Linked DNA regions of Homo sapiens. The protein of the gene in region 2 purifies or fractionates together with the protein of the main gene of each other region. This does not show direct contact. Each region holds a gene or a part of one and is shown on either strand. Other genes may lie near its edges.

Region 1 (7,978 bases), on a different chromosome or scaffold from region 2:
GCACCTGTAATCCCAGCACTTTGGGAGGCCAAGCAGGTGGATCACCTGAGGTTGGGAGTTCAAGACCAGCCTGACCAACAAGGAGAGACCTCATCTCTACTAAAAATACAAAATTAGCCGGGCGTGGTGGTGCATGCCTGTAATCCCAGCTACTCGGGAGGCTGAGGTAGGAGAATCACTTGAACCCCAGAGGTAGAGGTTGCGGTGAGCCTAGATGGCGCCATTGCACTCCAGCCTGGGCAACAAGAGCAAAACTCCGTCTCAAAAAAAAAGTTTGAGCCCATCTTCTCTGGATTTCAAGTAAGCAAGAGCCATTGGGTGATCATCAAAACCCATTTTTAATAAGCTGTTCTACCTCTATAGCAGTTAGTACTACCAATTCAAAATAATTATTGACCAAATGAATATGTTTTATTATTTATCTATTTAATTTTTGAGACGGGGGTCTCACTCTGTCACCCAGATTGGAGTGCATTGGTGTAATCTCGGCTCACTGCAACCTCTGCCTTCCAGGTTCAAGTGATATTCCCACCTCAGCCTCCCAAATAGCTGCGACCACAGGGGCACACTACCACATTTTTGGTAGAGACAGGGTTTCATCTTCTTGCCCAGGTTGGTCTCAAACTCCTGAACTCAAGCAATATGTCCACGTTGGCCTTCCAAAGTGCTGGGATTACAGGCATGAGCCACCATGCCTGGACTATAAATGTGTTTTGTCAACTTTTCTTTTTTTTTTTAATTTTTTTTTTTTTTAATTTTGAGACAGAGTTTCACTCTTGTTGCCCATGCCGGAGTGCAATGGCGCGATCTCGGCTCACTGCAACCTCAGCCTCCTAGGTTCAAGCGATTCTCCTACCTCAGCCTCCCAAGTAGTTGGGATTACAGGCATGCACCACCACACCCGGCTAATTTTGTATTTTTAGTAGAGACGGGGTTTCTCCATGTTGATCAGGCTGGTCTTGAACTCCCAACCTCAGGTGATCCACCTGCTTGGCCTCCCAAAGTGCTGGGATTACAGGCATGAGCCACCGTGCCCGGCCGCCACCTTTCCGTTTATCCTCTTCCGTGATACCCCAAGTTGGGTGATGATCTCACTTATTTTCTTTCCTAACATCTCTTCTTTTCGCCTCTGCACTCCAGAGAGAGTCTGTTAAAATGTCCACATCCCCCAGTCCTCCTTTCCACTACTGTAGTACAGTGCCTCCTTCCAGTTCACAAATGGTAATCTGGAGCCACCTTCAGATGGGCACATGACCTTAAAGGACAGATTTACTCTTTCGAATTCCACTGTCTTGTCCAGCCCCACCCGCCTCTGACTAAGGGCTTATACATGTGAGACAGCTGCTTTGAATGAGGAGTAAGGATCTGGTTGGTTAAAAGACAGAAATTAACAGGGATACATAACTGAACTGTGACCTCATTATCACTCTGCCTTAACCAAGTTGACTGCTACAGAATCCCCAAGGTCCAACAGGCCTACCAAGCCAATTTGCTTACTGTCCCCTACTAATTGGTTTAACTAATTACTGCCATTTAAACTTTCCTAGTTTAGTCCCTATACTTGAAACAACCGATTTCTTCCCATGTCTCCACCATTCTACATCAATAACTTCCTTCAAGTACTGACTCAAAACACACCTCCTCCAGGAAGACCCTCTTGACTGAACCCTTCCTTCAACATTACTCTGAACACATAATGCCATGTAATCTAGCATGTATCCTATATTCTGTAGTTGTTTCACATGTATATGTATGTTCATCTACTAAGTTATAAGCTCCTCATAAAGAGACACCATTACTTCTAATTTTTGACCTCCCGACCAATTAGTACAGGGCTGTACATCGGGTGAGTCCTCACATTTAGTCAGAAGAAGGAAAACTGAGGCTTAAAAATAGGCAGCCATCTGTCTAGAGTTACCCAAATATGAATGCTTGTAGTTCAATCCAGAAGGACTGTCCATATAAGAAGGTTTTATCACCACTTCTGGCCTCCTCCTCCCATACCCTGTGTGTCTCCCTGAGCCCTGAAAGTATCAGTGTTCCCTACATCAAATCCCTTTTTTTCCTACTGGGAAATCCTCTTTTGATGCTCTAAATAATATTAAAAATAACTCTTCTAGCCCGTCCTCCTCCCTCCAATTGCCCAGAGAACCAGGCTGGCAACCTCTCTTGTTCACCTCCATCCCCTAGCCAGAACCGGGCACGTGACCCCAGCTGAACCCCTGACTCCAATTCCTCAGGTTACCTAGAGTTATTTTGGGCAATGGATACCATGTATGCCCCTCCTCCTTATCCTCTGGGCCATATCCTAGTTTAGCCCTTCCTGGAAGGCCCATCATACCCAATAGCCAAGTCCCAACACCCATATCCATTTGATCCTTTGCTACCTTTGGTTTCTGCTGCTGCTTCATCATCATCATCAGTCATCAAATATTAAATGCCTGTTTCTCTATACTGATATTCTGGAGCTTAAAAAAAACTATACCTGGCTGGGCACGGTGGCTCACGCCTGTAATCCCAGCACTTTGGGAGGCCGAGGCGGGCGGATCACGAGGTCAGGAGATTGAAACCTCCTGGCTAACATGGTGAAACCCCATCTCTACTCAAAGTTAGCCGGGCATGGTGGCAGCACCTGTAGTCCCAGCTACTGGGGAGGCTGAGGCAGGAGAATGGCATGAACCCCAGAGGCGGAGCTTGCAGTGAGCCGAGATCCCGCCACAGCACTCCAGCCTGGGCGGCGACAGAGCGACACTGGTCTCCAAAAAAAAAGGTGAAATGAGAAACAAAGGTGTACAATTTAACCAGATTGTGGCAGTATAAACTAAGTATGTAAGTGTTAAGGAGAACTAACAAAAGGAAAAGAGCCTATTAGCCAGAGGAGACTTCCTGGAAGAGGTAAGTTTAAATTTCTTCATAATTTTTGTGTGTGCATGGAATCACGGAGTGATTGCTCCTAAGCAATATTTTAACTTTTATTTTCAATATGGTAAAAATTTAAAAAATTCCAAAAGGTATATAGTGATAGGTAAATTTCTCTCTCATTCCTTATTTCCTGTACCCCAGTTTTTCTTTCTGGGAAAAAAGGACTGTTACTAGTGTCTTAAGTATCTTTCTAGCAGGAAAGCAAGGGAAGGCTTTTTTTTTTTTTTTTTTTTTTTGACATGGAGTCTGGCTCTGTCACCCAGGCTGGAGAGCAGTGGCTCCATCTCGGCTCACTGCAACCTCCGCCTCCTTGGTTCAAGTGATTCTCCTGCCTCAGCCTCTCCAGTAGCTGGGATTACAGGCGTGCACCACCACACCAGGCTACTTTTTTATATTTTTGGTAGAGATGGGGTTTCACCATGTTGGGAATGGGAAGGCTTTTTTTTTTTTTTTTTTTTTTTTTTTTTGAGACGGAGTCTCGCTCTGTCGCCCAGGCTGGAGTGCAGTGGCGCAATCTCGGCTCACTGCAAGCTCCACCTCCCGGGTTCACGCCATTCTCCTGCCTCAGCCTCCCAAGCAGCTGGGACTACAGGCGCCCGCCACCCTGCCCGGCTGATTTTTGTATTTTAGTAGAGACGGGGTTTCGCTGTGTTAGCCAGGATGGTCTCGATCTCCTGACCTCGTGATCCACCCGCCTCGGACTCCCAAAGTGCTGGGATTACAGGCGTGAGCCACCGCGCCCGGCCGGGAAGGCTTTTTTGAAATGTATTTTCGCCGGGTGCGGTGGCTCACGCCGGTAATCCCAGCTCTTTGGGATGCCGTGGCAGGTGGATCACCTGAGGTCAGGAGTTCGAGACCAGCCTGACCAACATGGTGAAACCCCCGTCTCTACTAAAATAAAAAATTAGCCGGGCAGGGTGGCGGGCGCCTGTAGTCTCAGCTACTTGGTAGTCTGAGACAGGATAATCACTGAACCCGGGAGGCGGAGGTTGCAGTGAGCCGAGATCGTGCCACTGCACTCCAGCCTGGGGGACGAGAGTGAAACTCCATCTCAAAAAATAAAATAAAATGTATTTTTATTTTTTAATTTTTTTCCTCTCCCCTCAAGGGAGGATTTTTATATATAAAGCCTTGACAGGACGCCAGCATGCTGCACTTCGTCCATTTCGTGTTCTCTTCAATGTGTATTGAGTTGTGAAACTCTGAACAGGACCCTGGATCACCTTTTATAAATTGTATCAATTTTTCAATCTCCACTTTTCGTCTTCCTCCTTTTTCCGTTTCTGGGTTGAGATGACCTCCATTCATTTCTTCTCTAATTGACGGCTCTCTGGCCTCTCCATTGGAGGAGGGGAAGCGCCACAGGCTGTTCTGGGGAGAAATTGTTGAGTGTTTTCCACTTTAACCTTGCAATGGAATCAGTAAGGAGTTGGAAAATGCCCCTTCTGTTGGTCTTGGCGGCCTTTTCCAGCTGCCAGTTGTCATGGCCTCTTTGTGGGTGTTTTCTGCAGTAGAATCCTCCTTGGGGTTTCTCTGCAGTTTGAGCACTTTTGCTATTTCTTCTCTACCGAACTCACGCCTCCGCCAGTGGAGATACACGCTTTCCCTCCCTCTGGGGCTATTGCCATACATAATTCCCAGTTCTCCACCCGCCAGTTCCTCCTAGTCTGTGGGGGATTTCGGGGTGTGGAATCGCTGACGGGAGGAGTTAGCTCGGGCGGGAGCATTGTGGGCTGGGTAAGATCTGGCCAGCCGTTCGGTCCTCAGTTTGGGAAGCACCGCGGGACTAAGGCCCAGGTTTCCGCTAGGGTCTTGTGGGGAACCCCTTGGGCCGCCAGACTGGAGCGGAGAGCACAGCGCGGCCAGCTGCGTGAGCCGGGGAGCCGGCGCGCGAGTTCGGGGGTGCAGGGGCTGCTGGGGCCGCCAGGGTGGGGCGGAGGGCGCTGCGGCCGGGGTCCGTTTGCGCGGGGAGCGCCGGGACCAGGACGGCCGCCAGGGAGCGCTGCGGCCTCCAACTCGCCCGCCCCCCGGTAGGCGGGGCCGCGCTCTCCCTGCAGCCGCCACCGCAGCCGCCGCCTGGGCCGCTCCGTGTCCCCGGTGGAGCCGCCGCCGCCGCCGCCGGGAGCTCGATGCGGACGGAGCCCGGGCCGAGCCATGGGGATCCTCAGCATCACGGACCAGGTCAGCCCTCCTGCCCTTTCCCGCTTCCTCCTTCCAGGGCTCGGCGCTGCCGTCACGCGAGCCCGGGGATGTGCGGCCTAGGCTGGGCCTGAGCCCGGGGCTCCCGCAGCTCCCGCCCCGCCCCATGCCGCGCTCCCCTCAACCGAGCCGGTGTCCTTGGGGACCTGGCAACCGGCGGAGGCACCGCGGGAGCTCGCTCCAGCCAGAATCCCTAGAGTGGAGCCCCTCCACGGACGCCCCCCACTCAAACCTAGGTGCTCCCCCACCCCCACCCCCACACCGGTTCCGCTCCGGCTCCAGCCCGCTCTCAGAATGCCGGTTCTCTCTGCAGCCGCCCCTGGTCCAGGCCATCTTTAGCCGAGATGTGGAGGAAGTGCGTTCCCTACTCTCGCAGAAGGAGAACATCAATGTGCTGGTGAGTTGGGAGCAGGGAGGATGGCGAGACCGGAATCCTGGCTCCCGTGTTCTGGACCCCTCCCCACCGGTGGGGCGGCTCCGTGTCTCCTCTGCTCAGATGAGGCCGCAGTTCTTTCCATCCTGGAGTGAAAGCCTACTCTGCATTTGGGGATGGAGAGCAGGTCAGGCTTGAAGCCCAGATCACTTGGGCTGGGAATGCCCAGGAACGTTGTTCTCTTCTCAACCTCCGGAGTCTGCAGCGCCCCCACCCCTCCTGGAAAAAGGAGCCGGCTTCTCAGCCCATTGGCCCTGACTCCACCCTCCCTAGGTGCTTGCCTTTGACTCCCAATACCGGGACTTAGGACGCTGCAGAAACTATGGGAAGAGGTTGTGGGGAAGGGCCTGGAGCTCTGAGACTTGGGCTGGGGTCCTTGATAGCCCCCTTACCCCGCGCCCATACTCCCTGCTCTTTTTTGCCTTCCCAGGACCAAGAGAGGCGAACTCCATTGCATGCTGCTGCCTACGTAGGCGATGTCCCCATCCTCCAGTTGCTACTGATGTCAGGTGAAAGTGGGGAGCTGGAAGGTGTGGCACATAGGGAGCGAAGGGAGGGGAGGAGTCTTTTTTGATATTCAAGGATTGCTCTCCCCGGCTTGGTCCAGGCGAGGCTCCAGCTCCATTCAGATTTCCTGGCCTGATTACTGGCTTCCTTCATACCTCCTCCCCACCTTCCATCAAAATAGGAAATTATATCCCCACAGGTGCTAATGTCAATGCTAAGGACACACTGTGGCTGACCCCTCTTCATCGTGCTGCTGCCTCCCGAAACGAGGTATGCACCCCCACCTTCTATTACCCTTTCAAAAAGGATAAGTTGCTTAAAGGTGGGGGTTAAGGGTTAAGGAGCCTCAGTCCTCAGCCCTACAAGCTGTTCTACCCCAGGTAGTGAGGAGATCAAATCTTGGCCCCTTCCTCCTACCCCTAGAACTGGCCAGTAAGGGGGTTGAGTGCTGCCAGCTGATGTGACTCAGGAAGAGCTTAACACTGGGCTGGCAGACTGCGGGGGCCCTGCTGCCAGGCCTGAGTGACTCATCCCTCCCTGGGGGGCCACCTTGAGTCTGATCCCCCTCTGGGCACTGAGATTTCTTTTCCTTGTGATGGAGGATGGGTATAGTAATCTGTTGCATCCTTGGCCCTCAAGCAGCTTGAAAGTTGACAGCACAGGGGCCAAACATATTTCATCAGTTGGGTCCTTTATCCTATTCCCATCAGCCCTGAAGACAGGGAAAGGGGGACCTCCTCCTCAGTTCATCACTTCCCTGGCTCCAGCCACCAGGGGGAGGGGCCGAGGCCAGTGGGAATGAGGTGGGTGGTGGTTAGGAGGGGCATTTTAGCTCGGGTTTTGCAAACGAACCAGTATCTGTTTGCTTACTGAGATACTGAAAATAATTTTGGTGCCTATGAGAAGGCTAAAGAGGGTGTTCAGGGCAAGATGTAGCAAGAGCATTTAGTTTTCCTAGAAGTAGTAGGGGGTTGGGATGTGTGGATCTCCACATGTGGATTTGTTTGGGAATGGATGTATGTGTGAGTGAAGATTTTCAGGGTCTAAGTTGGCGAGTCAGGTGGCTTGAAGAAGAGCAAAGGGTCCTTGTTTTAATCAGCAAGGTAAGGAAGAGCTTAAGTTCTAAGAAGATCCAGAAGATGGAAAGTAGGTATTCAGAGGCTAGGTATGTTGGAAAAATGAGAAGAGATTCTGTGCTGGGGAAGGGGCTGTAGATGCTATGCTGACCTATTCCTCCTTCCATTTCCTGTTGTTTTACCTCCTGCTCCCACTCTCTCTTTTGTCCCCTGCCCCTCAACAGAAGGTGCTGGGGCTGCTGCTGGCACATTCAGCAGATGTGAATGCCCGGGACAAGCTGTGGCAGACACCACTGCATGTGGCTGCTGCCAACCGGGCCACCAAGTGTGCTGAGGCTCTGGCACCCCTGTTGAGCAGCCTCAACGTGGCTGACAGGAGCGGGCGCAGTGCTCTGCACCATGCAGTGCATAGTGGGCATCTTGAGGTGAGGACTGTTCCCATCCAGGCCCAGCTGGGGCTTTCCCTTTTCTTACCTTCCTACTCACGTTTCCCTGCTTCTGGGCCCTCAAGCCTGAAGGAGAAGCAGCCCGGATGGTTATATAAACACTTAAGCTGAAGCACTAAATGAATGGTCAGACTAGATTAAAATTCTTAACTTGGACTTCAGGAGGTTGATAAAACCTTGGATTTTGCGTGGAAAATATTTGCATACACGCCTTTCTGAAGAGAGTCCATGTCTTTCAGCACATTTGCAAAGACTTACAAGAGTTTAAGAACCGGCCGGGCACGGCGGCTCACGCCTGTAATCCCAGCACTTTGGGAGGCGAAGGCGGGTGGATCATGAGATCAGGAGATCGAGATCATCCTGGCTAACATGGTGAAACCCTGTCTCTACTAAAA
Region 2 (7,017 bases):
AAAAAGATTGCATCACCAGGTAGTTTTCTCGATTAAGGAGGCAGCCTGACCAGGGTGGGCCGTGGCCGGGCGGCAGCAGCATCACACTGGGCCATTTAAGGCAGCTCCTTCTGGCGGGGCATCTGTCTTCCTGCAGGAATGGGGTGGGGTTGGAACCGTGCGGGCTGCGGGCCCTGTCCACACCCCCTACCCCCACACTCAACCTGCTCACCCGTCCTTTGTCACTGTCCCCAGGGTGGCCACCATGGCTGGGGCTGCTGTGACTGCCATGATGGGCCCTAGGGGGACCGCCACGGCCAGTGCAGAAGAGACTGCTGGGGTGGGTATGGCGGGGCCAGCCTTGCTCAGTGCTGTGGTGATGGCCACAGTAGCCTCGGGGGGCACAGCCACGGCTGGGGCAGCAGTCACTTCCTTTGGCGCGGGGCAGGCAGGGCTTAACAGCCGGCTGTCAGCACACCCGACCCTGTGTGGCAAACATGGACTCCGGTTACGGGCACCCCCACCCTCAGTGCCACCCCGCCTCATGCCCAAGGACCAGCTGGACAAAAAGGTCCAGGCGGCCTGGGAGCACCATCTTTGGCCCCTCTCACTCCTGCCCTTTGTGGGGTGGCCCAGGTTGTGCCCAGCTAGGCAGCTCTGCTGCCCCAAGTTCCAAGTACTGGGACAAGCTGCCTGTCCATTGATGACCTCAAACCTCCTCCAGGCAGCACTCAGATCCTGCTCATCATCAAGCGCCTCATTCTTCAAGGACCCCAGAGCCTCCTGTGCTATGATCTCAACTTCAGCCTCACACTGGACACAGTCTGGGGAAACCTCCCAGGGGATGGGAGGGTAGAGAGGACCCTGCCGGGCATCTAAGGGGCTTGCTCTGGAGGGGGTCGGGCACCCCAAGGCCCAGCCTGGCCACGAGCAGCAGACGGGCCCCCTGGCTTCCTGCAGGGCGACGACACTGTGTCTGACTGAGGGAGGGGCACTCAGGTCAGGCGGGGGCGCGAGGAAGCTCACCTGCAGGCTGGGCCGTGACGACGGTGCAGGCAGGGCTCTAAGTGGCAAGTTTTACGCAGACAGCCCCGTGGAAAAAAACAACTTACTTTGCACAATGATATTCCCTGCTTTTCAGAGCAGTTTTTTAGGGGTTGTTTAGGAGAAGTGGGTAAAGGTTTGTTTTGGTTTTGTTTTTGCCGACAGTCAGTCTCTCTCATGCGCAGGCCGGAGTGCAGTGGCGTGATCTCGGCTCACTGGTTCAAGCGATTCTCCTGCCTCAGCCTCCCAAGTAGCTGGGACTACAGGCGCCTGCCACCACGCCTGGCTAATTTTTGTATTTTTAGTAGAGACGGGTTTTCGCCATGTTGGCCAGGCTGGTCTCGAACTCCCGACCTCAGGTGATCCACCCACCTCGGCCTCCCAAAGTGCTGGGATTACAGGCGTGAGCCACTGTGCCTGGCAGGGTAAAGACTGTTAAGAATTTCAGTGACTAGGCCAGGCGCGGTGGCTCACACCTGTAATCCCAGCACTTTGGGAGGCCGAGGCAGGCGGATCATGAGGTCAGGAGATCGAGACCATACTGGCTAACACAGTGAAACCCCGTCTCTACTAAAAATACAAAAAATTAGCCGGGCCTGGTGGTGGCGGATGCCTGTAGTCCCAGCTACTTGGGAGACTGAGGCAGGAGAATGGCGTGAACCCGGGAGGCGGAGGTTGCAGGGAGCCAAGATTGCGCCACTGCACTCCAGCCTGGGCAACAGAGCAAGACTCTGTCTCAAACAAACAAACAAAAATTTCAGTGACTAAACTTTAAGAAGGAATGAAGCCCACACAGGAACTCTGTATGACTTTCAACCCGAGGGGCTCTGGCCTGGGCTTCCCAGTGACTGCCGGCATCGGGAAACGGCCTTGGCCCCGTTTCCCGTGCTGTGCCCCCCACTTGCTGCAGATGCCCTGAAGACAGGGTGGCCAAACAAGGGGAGGAGCTGTGAGCACAGACGGGGCCTGCTGGTCAACAGGGCGGGGAGAGCCAGCCTGGTGCTGAGCTTGCAGCTTGGCTGGGGGAGATGCCCGGAGCCCCAGTACCACACAGACTCTCCAGGATTGCCGGGGGTCAGTGAGCAGGACCCTCTGAGGTGTCAGGCCTGCCCCACCTGTGGGGGAAGGGTAGTACAGGTGGGACGCATGCAGGCTGAGCTGCATTGGGCGGTGAGGCTGGGGGACACCCTCACCCCGCTCCAGGCAGGCCCTTCACAACCATGGAGCCAGGAGTGACTGGGATGCACCACCAGATGTGAAAGGCACCTTGTCCCCTCCTAGAGGAATCCAGCCCGAGGACTTCCCCACTGTTGCCTGGACCTACTGGGAGCTCAGGCCTCAGGGTCTTTGCACAGCTGTGCCGTTGCTGGGTGCGCCCTCCTCCCCACGTCAAGCCCAGTCCTACCCTCCCCCTCAGGTTTACCTGGCCCTGGCATCTACCCCAGCGGTCCTGCCCTCCTGCTAACCCACGCCCTGACCCCAGAGGCCAGAGAGGTATCTGTTTACTGAAGGATCCCAGGGACCTTCCTGTGGCCCTGGGGACGGATGGGGTTCAGCTTGCTGGAGGGGCCGGCCAGCCTCCAACCTCCTCACAGGGAGAGCCTCCCTCTCCACTCTCTCCCCAGGGATGGCTCTTGGGGGCTCAAGGGAGCCTGGGCCTCTGCCAGCCTGCAAGCTGCCTCCAACTCTCAGTCAGGATTTGGATGCCCCCAGTGCAGTCCTGAGGCCGCCGCCCCCCATCCTACTATCCTGCTTCTGAGGCGTCTCGGAATCATAGGCCTCCCGTGGAAGGGGAGCAGCAGGCGAGGTCTGCGTGAGCCCCACAGATGCCCGCTCGCCTGCCAGACTTAAAAGTCTGTGCCCCTCCCCGACCACCAGGGTACCCAGATCCCAGGCGGCTCAGCCAGGCCCAGAGCCCCAAGAGCTGGGCTGTTCTCTCCAACTGGGATCTGGGGTAGGGGCTGCTCCCCCAAGTCCCTGGGGGACTGTCTGGGACATCCAGGCCCTGTCTTCTTGTCTTAACCACTCACAACAGAGAACACGATGTTCTGTCCACGAAAGAAGGCCCCACACTTCTCCCATCTGGCCTCCACGTAAACGCGTGGGCACCACCGCCGCCTCAGCCAGCCTCTGAAGGGTCACGGGGCCATGGGGGAGGCAGTGTGGAGAAGACCCTGGCCTGGCCTCACCTCCTCTCAGGGGAGCTGAGACCTGGGGACAGAGCCTGGAAGCCACGCCCTATGCACCCGGCAGGCCCGCCCCCGCCACGCCCCACACACCTGCCGACAGCCTCCTCTGTCCTGGCCACTGTGGGCAGCGGGGGGGCCTCCCGGCCGGGACCCCTGCTCACCGCATCCATGGCACTCGCTGCCTTCTGGTCGCCATCCTCGCTGTGGGAGCCCCCAGAGGAGCTACTGTCAGAGGCCAGCAGGGGGGCCTTCCTGGTGACACACACGTTCCAGGCACATGGAGAAGCCGGGCTGACTGCAAAGTAGGAGGCCTGTGCTGTCCAGTGAGGCAGGAGGGGTCACAGGGTGCGGCCACTCCAGCCATAGGGTCCCCATACATGTGGCCCTCTCACATGCAGCCTGTTGCCTGCACACATGTGCCTGTGTGGGAGCCGCATGATGAGGCAGACAGGCTCACGCACCTGCCATGGGGTCTCCACACAAACAACCCTGTTGCCTCCCCCATGATACAGGGACACATGCCCTGGTCTCACAGGAGGACGCAGAGGCTCAGGGAGGGGCCCACTCCGCCTCGTGTGGTCCTGCCACAGCTCCTTTAAGCCCAAAGGACCCCAAAACCGGGGACACCAGTGTTGGGAGCCAGCTGTCACTCACCTGGAGCTCTCAGCCTTATCTGGGGGAGCTTCTGAGCCTGACTAGGGGGCTGGGGGCCAGGGGCTCTGATCAGGCCACAGAACAGCTTCCTGCCAACAACCCACCCACACACATCTCAATGCTGGGGTCCCAGTGCTGCTGTCCGGAATCCAGGGTGCAGACCTGAGCTGTGCCACCTACTCAGACCAGGCTCAGAGCCAGCCCAATGGCCTTGCTGCCTCCCCTCTGGGGGCCTCCCCATCTACACGTGGCTGCTCCAGTCCCATTGCTGTATCAAACCCCAATGTCACCAGAGACGTAGCAGCATGCGAGGCCCCGGCCACCTCCTCCCACTGCCCCCAAGGAGGGGGGCCAGCTGGCCTCAGGCCTTAAACTGGGCAAGGCTGGGTGCCGCCTGCACTGCTCCTACTCACAGGCTTTCTCAGGGCCTTGGCTCCGGCTGCCCTCAGCATGGCTGCATTCTGTGTCCACCGGAGAGCTGCACCTGGGCCCTGACTCGGAGCTGCATACAAGGACGAGGACAGGATCAGTCCTGGGGGACAGGTGCCTCCTGGCCCTGACAGGCACTTCCTGGCACAGCCCCCTCCTGCCAGCGCATTTGTTACCAGCAGAAAGGTTGGAAGTCAGTGAACTTGGCCCAGCCTTTCTCCTCTGGAGCTGAGGTGCCAGCTGCCCACACACTGGAACCCACGTCCCTCACCACTCCTGGGGCTGTGGGCGTTGAGTTCGCTGGCTCATCAAACACTGCCGTCCACATGGCGCCTGCTGGGGGAGAGACACAGTGGTCAGGCGTGGGCAGGCCTGGGGTGCTGCAGGCAAAGGGGAGGCAGCGCCCCTGCCCCGGGAGCCCCTCAGAGGTTGACAGGAAGATGGGGCTGCTCCAGGAGGGAGGCCCAGGCAGTGCCCGTCAGCCCCTCAAGGAGCAACAGGGGACAGCTCGAGGGTCCTGACAAGCTGCCGACACCCATGGGGCGTGTGACCTGGGGCTCAGTCAGGTGCCTGAGGGCCCCCAGGCCTCCAGCAGGACTGACACTGACAGTGTGGAGGTGATGCCACTGCCCTGTCCTACCCAGGACCGCAACCCACAGAGCCGGCAGCTCACCGAGCACCACTGGCCCCTTCCTGGCCTCGAGGATGGGGTGTCTTCCTCCTATCTGGGATGTTCCTGCTTCCCCAGGGTGTCACCCTTGCTCTGTCAGCGAAGAGCTCAGCCCCTCCTAACAGAGATCTCTGCCCCCGCCACCAAAGTCCTGAGTGCCTCAGTGCTGCCCCCAGGGCAGGGTAAGGAGAGGGGTCTCATCAGCCATGCGGCCTGTGAGGTGGACTGGCTCCTGCCATAGATGTCGGCCATGAAGGTGGCGGCCGGCCTGTGCTGCTGTGCTGGGGAGGGCGTCAGGCCTGTGCCTGACTGTGTGGGGGCTGGACGGACGATGGAGACTAGGTGGACACCACCCACCAGCCTTGGCAACGTGGCTGAGTGACCACAACTGCAAGGCAGGGGCAGGAGGCCACCTTGCGCTGGGCACAGCGCAGCACAGACCCCTACTCAGGACGGCTGGGAAATAGCTGGGGATTCAGGCTCCGGGCCACAGTGAGCCCCAAATGCCTCAGCTCCAAATGAAGCCTCCACAACACCCAGGCCGGGGTACCATGTCCTGTCCCCGATACCCACACTCCCAGCCCCTGGCGCCCAGCACCACCTTCTGAGTCACCCTCCACAGGGGGCGCTTCCTTCTTCCCGGGGGCCGGTGGGGCACCTGCCCCAGGTGCATCTCTGTGTGCTTCCAAGCTCGCCTTCCCATCCTGGCCTCCACGCTCTGGGCCATTCTTTGAGCAACTCTCTGAAGCATGGGGGGCTCCAAACCTGGGGGAGATTCAGAGTCAGATGTCTGGTGGCCCAGGACGGACGCCTAACATGGAGGGTCAGTGGCGGCCCCAGGCTCGGGGCTGAGGGTGAGCACAGATCGTCTCGAGAGAGGAGCACGAGACGCTCCAGGCCTCAGCTCTGGGCTCCTTAGGGTCACCCGCTGCATTGGGCCCCAGAGCTGGCAGGACAGGTGTGGCTGCTCTGCAAGCCAGCTAACGAACCACAGGGCGTCTGACAGGTGTTCTGGGGGCTGAACCTCCTCGGCAGAGGCTTTGTGGGGATGGGCAGGCCCCGCACCTGGGTCTGGCCATCACCCGGGCAGCACAGCGAGTGTCACTGTCCTCCCAGATGTCCTCGTCCTCATCATCATCAAAGGGCTGGATGCGGTCACTGCAGCAGGCCTCAAACAGAGCTGCGCTGGGCTGCAGAGTAAAACGCCAAGGTGAGTTTCCAGAGGGTCTGGGGGAGACAGGAGCCGCTCTCCCCATAGAGCTCCCAGAGGGGCTTAGTTCGGGATGTGGGAGCCCCGGGCTGGAGGGGAGGACGGGGAGGGGCAAGGAAAGCGACTGTTCCGAGCTCCACAGAGGGGCCTCTCCCAGCCCCACCGCACAGGCCCATGACAGACCGAGCCATGGGCATGGCCTGAGCTGCCTGGGAAAAGGGTGGCGGCACCCCACACAGCCCGGCTTGCTCACACTGTCCTCGTCAGCGTCGATGTTGAAGTTGATCTCTGCGATCCTGTCAAACGGGGCACTGCAAGAGCAAGGGGGATGGCTTCAGCGTTCCTCCAGGCCCACTGCTCATCTGGGGCCTCAGTGCTCCTCCCCCGGTGCTCATCGGGGGCCTCAGCACCCTCACACAACTGGGAACACCTGCTGTCTCCCGGGGACATCAGACGGCACTCCCGGCAAGACCTCAGGGAGCTGCCTCCACGGGAGCTCAGCAGCAGGGAGAGCCGCGCCTCGTGCAGAGTGCGCTCCAAGTAGACTCACTTGATGTTGTCGTCCTGGTCGGCAAACTCCTCATCATTGAAGCCAAACTGATCCACGAAGTTGGCTGTCATCTGCTGGATCTGGTAGTCAGAGAAGGCCTGGGAGGGAGGGAGGGAGGGAGGGACGGACAGACACCGGTCATGGAGGAGGCATCAGGCCTGGAGGCTGCTCTTTGGGAACCACAATCTCTCTAGTTGTTCGGGAGCTTCTCCTCCAGCACAAGTGGGCAGTAAACTCTGTTCAGGGCTCACGATTCTACCAAAACTCAGGCTGCGCGCTCGCTGCGGTCACA
Region 3 (6,842 bases), on a different chromosome or scaffold from region 2:
GAGGTCCTGCTCAAATTGAAGGTGGAAGGTGCAGGTGCCATGAGCAAAGGTGACAGACAGAGGCTCAGACAGGTGGAGTTCGTGTGCCAAGGCACGCAGTGGCAACGTGCAAGCAAGGCATTGAGGGAATGGCAAGGAGTCTGGCAGAGCATGAGCCAGGTAAGAGCAGGAAGGCAGGGAGAGAGGCAGGACCTCGTGGCTGGTCAGTGAGTCTGAAAGCAATGGGAGCCTCTAGAGGTGGTAGAGCAGAGAATGCCAGACCGGCTCTTCTTAAGAGAGATTTCAAATAGGGGAACTGCTGCTCTGAACATTTCTAAGGCATGGCACCTGTAGCTTTTCAAAAGAGATGGATGATTTTACACCTCACCTGGCAGCGATTGCTCCCCTCACCAAGACTTCTCCTGGAGTTCCCTCTTCCCTGTTCCCACAGGGTGGCTTCCAGCTCCCCTGTTAGCTCCTCCTCTGGATGGCTCCATCTCAGCCCTTCTGCTTCCTCTCACTCCTTGCACAGATGCATTCCCCGCTGGCCTGTCCCTCACCCTCTTCTCTGTCTGCCTTCTCCCACCTTGGTGAGACCCTCAGTGTCTTGTTGGCTTCAGTGACCACCTCTGGGCAGAAGACCCTCGGCAGGGCCCATCCCCTCCCTCTGACACCTCCCACCCTGCAAGGCACCTTCCCTTGGAAGCCCCCTCACCCCTTCAACCCCTGCAAATACAGAACTTGCCTGATGACTTTCTTAAGAAATATTTCCTCCTCATGCCACATCCTTAATTCACTCAAGGGCACCACCCTGCTGTCTCTCATACAGACTCTAACCTCAAATGTCATCCTTGGCTGGTCCCTTCAACCCCCACCCCACTCCCCAGTCCAGCCTCTCAGCCTCACCTGCCTCCACCCTCCATGGCCAACACTGCAGCTCTAATTCTTTTCCAACAGCTGGAATGACCTGAGAATTCAGCTACGTGACCCCGGCCTCTCTCCTCCACAGCCCAAGGGCGCTGCTGGCATACATAACAAATCTAACAGTCCTAACACACCACCCTTGATTCTGCCAGCCCCCACTCAAAACCCACACTGGGGAATAAAGCCCTGACCTCGCTCTCTGGCTGCCATGGCCCTCCCCTTCACACCTCCAGAACAGACAAAATGGGGGCTAACTGCCCACCAGGAAGGGAGGTGGCAGCCTAGGAACACAGGTGTCTACGTGGACACAAGGTCAGTGGGAATGGCCATCAGGCTGCGTCAGTCTCTGGGATTCTCAGATTCTCATTCCCTCCAAGCTTGTACCTTTAAACTCCTTCCTATCAGTTTTCTTACATTGTGCCTGGTACTTACTAGACATTTAATAAATATCTGAGGTTTGAGGCACCTAAAAATAGGGGTGCTTGCACCTGTGTGTTTCTGCTTCTGGAAATACTGTCACCTCAAATAGGTTCAGCAGCAGCATTTTTCTCTGTCCTCCAAAGTATCGTCGAAGACTAGTCCAAGACTTTTCTTTCACTTCCAGTAAACTGAAGGCTGAAGAAGCGCTGTTGGCTGTCTGAGGGCTCACAGTCTCACTGGTGAAAATATTCTAGAACAAAACTAGGGCAATTCAAACACTGTCCATTTAGAACTCCAGTTAATGGAGATGCAATAGAGGAGAAACTACAGTTCGGTTGCTTTGTGTCCGGACTGTTACTAAGTAATCAAAGTAGAAGAAAAACGTTTGCTTAAACCATTGAAACATGATTTTTTAAATAACTATCTTTTCTATCTACAGCAAAAGCATCTTTTAAAGTAGAAAGCTAGAGCATGTGTCCGGGGAAATGGATGGATTCTAGTTCCACTCGTCTGAATACTGAGGTCTCTAGATTTCCCCAACTGGTGTATAGGAGGATCAGGCTTTATGGCTATTCAAATGGATTTTTTTTTTCAAAAGTGCTAACACTGTCACACTCTTTATCCAAATAATTACCCAAGCCCATCTCAGAGGGTTTGGGACATATGTGGGAACGCTGCCCTTCCGAGGTAAGAGGTGGAGCCCCAGCCAGCAGAAAGGAAGCTTCTGAGGAATGCTCTAGTGTTTCCCAGAGTCAGGGTATATGAAAGGCGCTTTAGAAACTGTGGTGTTTGTACTGTTGCTAACAGTACAGATGTTAGGCAAAGAGCCTACGACTGCACCTCGTGGCCCCTGGGCTCCCCAAGCGCTTGGTGCCACTGCAGTGCCCTCAAGCCTGTGACCCAGGCTGCTTCAGCTTCTGATGAGCCTACATGCACGTTCACGCACTTTGAAGACACAGAATTCTAGAAAGCAGCCCGAACACTGCGGCCATAAGCTTCTATGCCAGCTCGTTCAAGGGGGTCCCAGGAGGGGCCAGGAGACTGGCCGGCGTCTCAGCTTCCTACGTCCGCATGGGCAACTCTGATTCCACCCGTGGTGTGGTAGGAAGGGACCGAGGCGCTCCAGTCCCGGGAGATGGGGACGCACGCGCGACCCCTGGGCACTGGGGATTCTAGGCCCCGAGGCCGGAGCGGCGGAGGGGGCGGCCCCTCCCACAGGGTCTTCCCACCCACAGGGCACCCAGGCGCAGCGGAGCCAGGAGGGGGCTTACCCGCGGGCAGGGACGGAGCACGCCGGGGCCCTGGAGGGGCGACGCTCGCTCGTGTCCCCGGTCCCCGTGGCCCCTCCGCGGCGCCTCCGCGGCCCCCAGCGCGCGCCCGCCCGCCCTGCCGTGTCAGGTGCGCAGGTGTGGCAGGTGTGGCCCGGGCGCCAGGTCGAGTCAGCGTTAGCAGGGCCGGCTCCCCCACAGCGCTCCCAGGAGCCCAGCGGACCCTCCTACCTGCGTGTACAGCTCGGCCACCGCCATGGGCAGGAGGGGCCGGGGCCAGGCCGGGGCTGCCGAACGTGCGAGGCTCGGGGGCTGGGCCTGCGCCGCAGAGGCCGGGCGCAGGAGAGACCGCCGCGGAAATCACCGCCGGGCCATCTTGCCCAAAGTTTTCCAACGGCCTCCTGTTCCCGTTCCCGAGTTGGCGGCGAGGGGAGGGGGCAGCGGCGGGATTGGTCCCTCCAAGCTTGGCCCGGCTAGTCGGCGCTGCCATTGGCCGGGGCCGGGCGGCTGCACCTGGCGGGAGCGCGGGTGGAGAAGGTTGGGGCCCGGGGCGCGCTGCCAGGCAGGAACAGATGCATCCGGAGGCTGCCCGGCCCGAGTGTTAGCTCCTCAAAGAGCAGAGGATACGACCATTTAAATGGAAGACCCAAGGGAATCAACGTACTGAACACAAAGAAATGTGTTAAGAGTCCAGCAAGGTCATCGTATTCAAAATCAAATACAAAAATAAGTAATGGTCCTTTATATGAGCATTGTCTATGCAATACAAGATATTTACAATATTAGTGAAAATATAAAGTATCCAGAGATTACACTCGCAAAAATGCCCTTGGCCTTTGTGGAGAAAATGTTTAAAATTCTCTTAAAGAGCTTAAAAGAAGGCCCAGGTAAACGGGAGACATGCCATTTTCCTGGCTGGGAATATTTAATATGGTCAAGGTGTCACTTCTACCCAAATCAATATATATGCCTAATATATTGGCGTCAGAATCCTACAGAACTTTTGGAGAATTGTACAATGATTCTATATTTCATATAGAATAAAAGCCCTGTATAACTAAGACAATTCTCAAAGAGGAGAGATTTGTCCTGCCATATATTTAGGGACATAACAAAGCAGTAGTCATTAAAACAGTGTGACACTTGCGTGAGAACGGATACGTGAGTAATGGAACATGCTGGAGCCCCCCAGCAGGGCCCTACATTATACGGTAGCCTTAAGGACCAGATAGGGAAATAAAATAATATTTATTAGATGGGCCCGTTATATGGAAAAACAATAAAAGCAGATCCGTGGCAAACACTGCATCCAAAAATAAGCTCCAGATGGATTCACGATTAAAACTTAAAACCGGGAAATTATTAGGAATAAAAGAGGGATAATATCTTTAAAATGTTGGGTTATAGTAGTTTCCATATAGAAGAATTGTTAATCGGTTAAAGAAAAGAAATCCAATTTTTAAAACTGACAAAAATTAATAGGCAATTCACAGATGGGGACACTTAAATGGCTTGTTAGCATACAAGGAGATGTCAACTTTAGCAGTAATCAGATAAATACAAATGAAAACAACAATGAGATATTGCTTTTTACCCATCATATTGGCAAAAACATTTAGGTTAGACAATCTCAGATACTGCCTAGGATGTGAGAAAATAAAAACTTGGCCGGGCGCGGTGGCTCACGCCTGTAATCCCAGCACTTTGGGAGGCCGAGGCGGGCGGATCACGAGGTCAGGAGATCGAGACCATCCTGGCTAACACGGTGAAACCCCGTCTCTACTAAAAATACAAAAAATTAGCCGGGCGAGGTGGCGGGCGCCTGTAGTCCCAGCTACTCGGGAGGCTGAGGCAGGAGAATGGCGTGAACCCCAGGGGGCGGAGCCTGCAGTGAGCCGAGATTGCGCCACTGCACTCCAGCCTGGGCGACAGAGCGAGACTCCGTCTCAAAAAAAAAAAAAAAATAAATAAAAAAAATAAAAACTTTTTTTGCTTACATAACTGGTGGGAATATACTGCCATCCTGGAGAGCAATTTGAGAATAGTTATGAAAATAAATGTAGGCAGAAAAATTCTCACAGTCACCCAAAGAGACAGTTAAGTAGATGTTCATCACAACATAGTTATTTATCAAAGAGTTGGAAGCATCTAAATATCAATAGGGGAATAAATAAAATAGTATATACATGGCAGACAGCAGAGAAAAATAAAAAAAGAAATAGTATATACATGTAAAACTCTACAGCTGTTAGTAGGAATAGACATGATCTACTTGACTCAGAAATAAAAAACAATGTTGAATAGATGTCTAGCCCAAGTCTTTAATATTTAAAAACTCACAAAAACTGCAATACTGAATATTGTTCATGGGTACAAGTATGTGTGAATAGAGGTAAGGAGGATAAATTACAAAGTCATTCATTAAATATGCAAGAGTGGATACCTATGAGGGAGAGAAATGGAATCGGAGATTTCAAAAAGGGGATCAAAAAATATAAAGAGAGGCCTGGCATGGATCAATAATGATAAATGCCACAAAGAGAGGATCATGGTAAATTTAATTTTGCATTTATTTATATACAAAATTATTTATATTATTGCCCAAATAATTCTATTTTGTATAAAGAAAAAGAAAATCTATAAGGTGAGTAGTGACAGCTGCCTGATTGCTCAGAGTTAAAAAGAGAATCTAGCTGCCTTTTTTATTTAAAGAAAATTTTTATTGAAGAATAAAATTATATACAGAAAAGTGTGCAAATAATAAGTGTACAGCTCAATATATTCTTATTCATGGAACACATCAACACACCAAAGTAACCACCGCCCAGATCCAGACGTAGAACATTACCGATATCCCAAAACTTTCTCTGTTTCTTCAAATCATTTTCTCTCAAAGATAACCACTGTTCTGATTTGTATCACCATAGATGCGTTTTACCTGTTTTGGATGTTTTTAATAAATGGAATCACATGTGTAACTCTTGCATTTGGCTTTTTACATGGTATTTATTCATCTTGTTGCATGTAGCTGCGGTTTGAGGTCTTTCATTCCTGTCTAGTAGTATTCCATTGTATAAATATTCTACAATTTATTCATTCTCCTATTGATAAATATTTCGGTTGCTTCAGTTTACACCCACTATGAATAATGCTGCTATGAACATTTTATATGTGTCTTTTGATGCACAAATATATGTATTTTTGTTGGGCACATAAACAGAGCAGAATTGCTGGATCACAGGTATGTAATGCTCAACTTTAACGGATAATGCTAAAGAGATTTGTAAAAAATTGTTATATCAATGTATACTTCTACCAGCAGTGTGTGAGACTTTTAGTTGCTTAATATCCTCACCACTTGATGTGGTCAGTTTAAAAAATAGCCTTTCTGATGAGTGTGTTATGATGTCTCACTGTGGGTCCAAGTTGCATTTATTTCTATGATGACTATTGACCACTTTGGTATTCTCTTTTGTGAAATGTCTGTTCAAGTCCACTTGAACTGCTATTTAAACAGATTTTCAACCAATTCCTGTGTTTTCAGCTGCATGCCACTTTCAGTGTTACCTGCTGCCTCTGAACCTAATTCCTGAGCTTTTCGGAATTATGTAGTGCAAACTGGATTGCTTCTGGGCTTCTGCCTGTCCCGGGTTAGGTTTCAGTTTTCTTTGCTTGTGAAAATAAAAGACATTTATCCATCTGTTTTTCATCTTCCAAGCTGTTGCTGTCATTCCTCATTCATTCTGTTTTCCTTTGTGAGTTTATTGTTACTTACCGGAGTTTCAGGAGGAAGGTTGAGTAAATACAGGTATTGAATCTACCATCTTTAAACATTTTGATCACAAACCCTTTACCGATATATGGTTTGCAAATATTTTCTCCCACTATATGGATTGTCTTTTCATTTTCTTCATGGTGTCTTAGGCAGCACAAAAACTTTAAATTTGGGGGAAGTCCAATTTATCATTTTTTAATTTTGTGGATCATGCTTTTGGTGTTGTTATCTAATAAATTTTTGCCTAGCTTAAGCTCATAAAGATTCTCTTCTAGATGTGTTATAGTTAGAACTCTGACATTTAGGATATGGAATTTTTTTTTTTTTTTTTTTTGAGACAGAGTTTAGCTCTTGTTGCCCAGGCTGGAGTGCAATGGCGTGATCTCGCCTCGGCCTCCCAAAGTGCTGGGATTACAGGCGTGAGCCACCACACCTGACACCTGGCCATTTTATTTATTTCTTTTTCTTTTTTTTTT

Evidence for each region. Proteins that work in one complex are often made in the same cells at the same time.
Region 1: the proteins of PPP6R2 (region 2) and ANKRD52 purify together in Homo sapiens (affinity purification with mass spectrometry; 4 studies listed by BioGRID and IntAct, with this or other methods). This does not show direct contact.
Region 3: the proteins of PPP6R2 (region 2) and MYO5C purify together in Homo sapiens (affinity purification with mass spectrometry; 2 studies listed by BioGRID and IntAct, with this or other methods). This does not show direct contact.

What each region holds. Positions count from the first base shown.
Region 1 is NC_000012.12:56,255,368-56,263,345, reverse strand, and holds the start of ANKRD52 (serine/threonine-protein phosphatase 6 regulatory ankyrin repeat subunit C), read left to right. Parts: upstream 1-4,961; 5' UTR 4,962-5,076; coding exon 5,077-5,103; intron 5,104-5,434; coding exon 5,435-5,518; exon of another isoform or gene 5,519-5,876; coding exon of another isoform or gene 5,877-5,984; coding exon 5,985-6,063; intron 6,064-6,260; coding exon 6,261-6,331; intron 6,332-7,361; coding exon 7,362-7,562; intron 7,563-7,978. UniProt on the Homo sapiens protein: Putative regulatory subunit of protein phosphatase 6 (PP6) that may be involved in the recognition of phosphoprotein substrates.
Region 2 is NC_000022.11:50,437,312-50,444,328, reverse strand, and holds part of PPP6R2 (serine/threonine-protein phosphatase 6 regulatory subunit 2), read right to left. Parts: intron 6,824-7,017; coding exon 6,726-6,823; intron 6,487-6,725; coding exon 6,429-6,486; intron 6,156-6,428; coding exon 6,031-6,155; intron 5,731-6,030; coding exon 5,567-5,730; intron 4,632-5,566; coding exon of another isoform or gene 4,629-4,631; coding exon 4,472-4,628; intron 4,369-4,471; coding exon 4,280-4,368; intron 3,529-4,279; coding exon of another isoform or gene 3,508-3,528; coding exon 3,303-3,507; intron 464-3,302; coding exon 212-463; coding exon of another isoform or gene 208-211; exon of another isoform or gene 204-207; intron 131-203; coding exon 82-130; 3' UTR 1-81. UniProt on the Homo sapiens protein: Regulatory subunit of protein phosphatase 6 (PP6). May function as a scaffolding PP6 subunit. Involved in the PP6-mediated dephosphorylation of NFKBIE opposing its degradation in response to TNF-alpha.
Region 3 is NC_000015.10:52,292,788-52,299,629, forward strand, and holds the start of MYO5C (unconventional myosin-Vc), read right to left. Parts: upstream 3,018-6,842; 5' UTR 2,850-3,017; coding exon 2,823-2,849; intron 2,425-2,822; exon of another isoform or gene 2,097-2,424; intron 1-2,096. UniProt on the Homo sapiens protein: May be involved in transferrin trafficking. Likely to power actin-based membrane trafficking in many physiologically crucial tissues.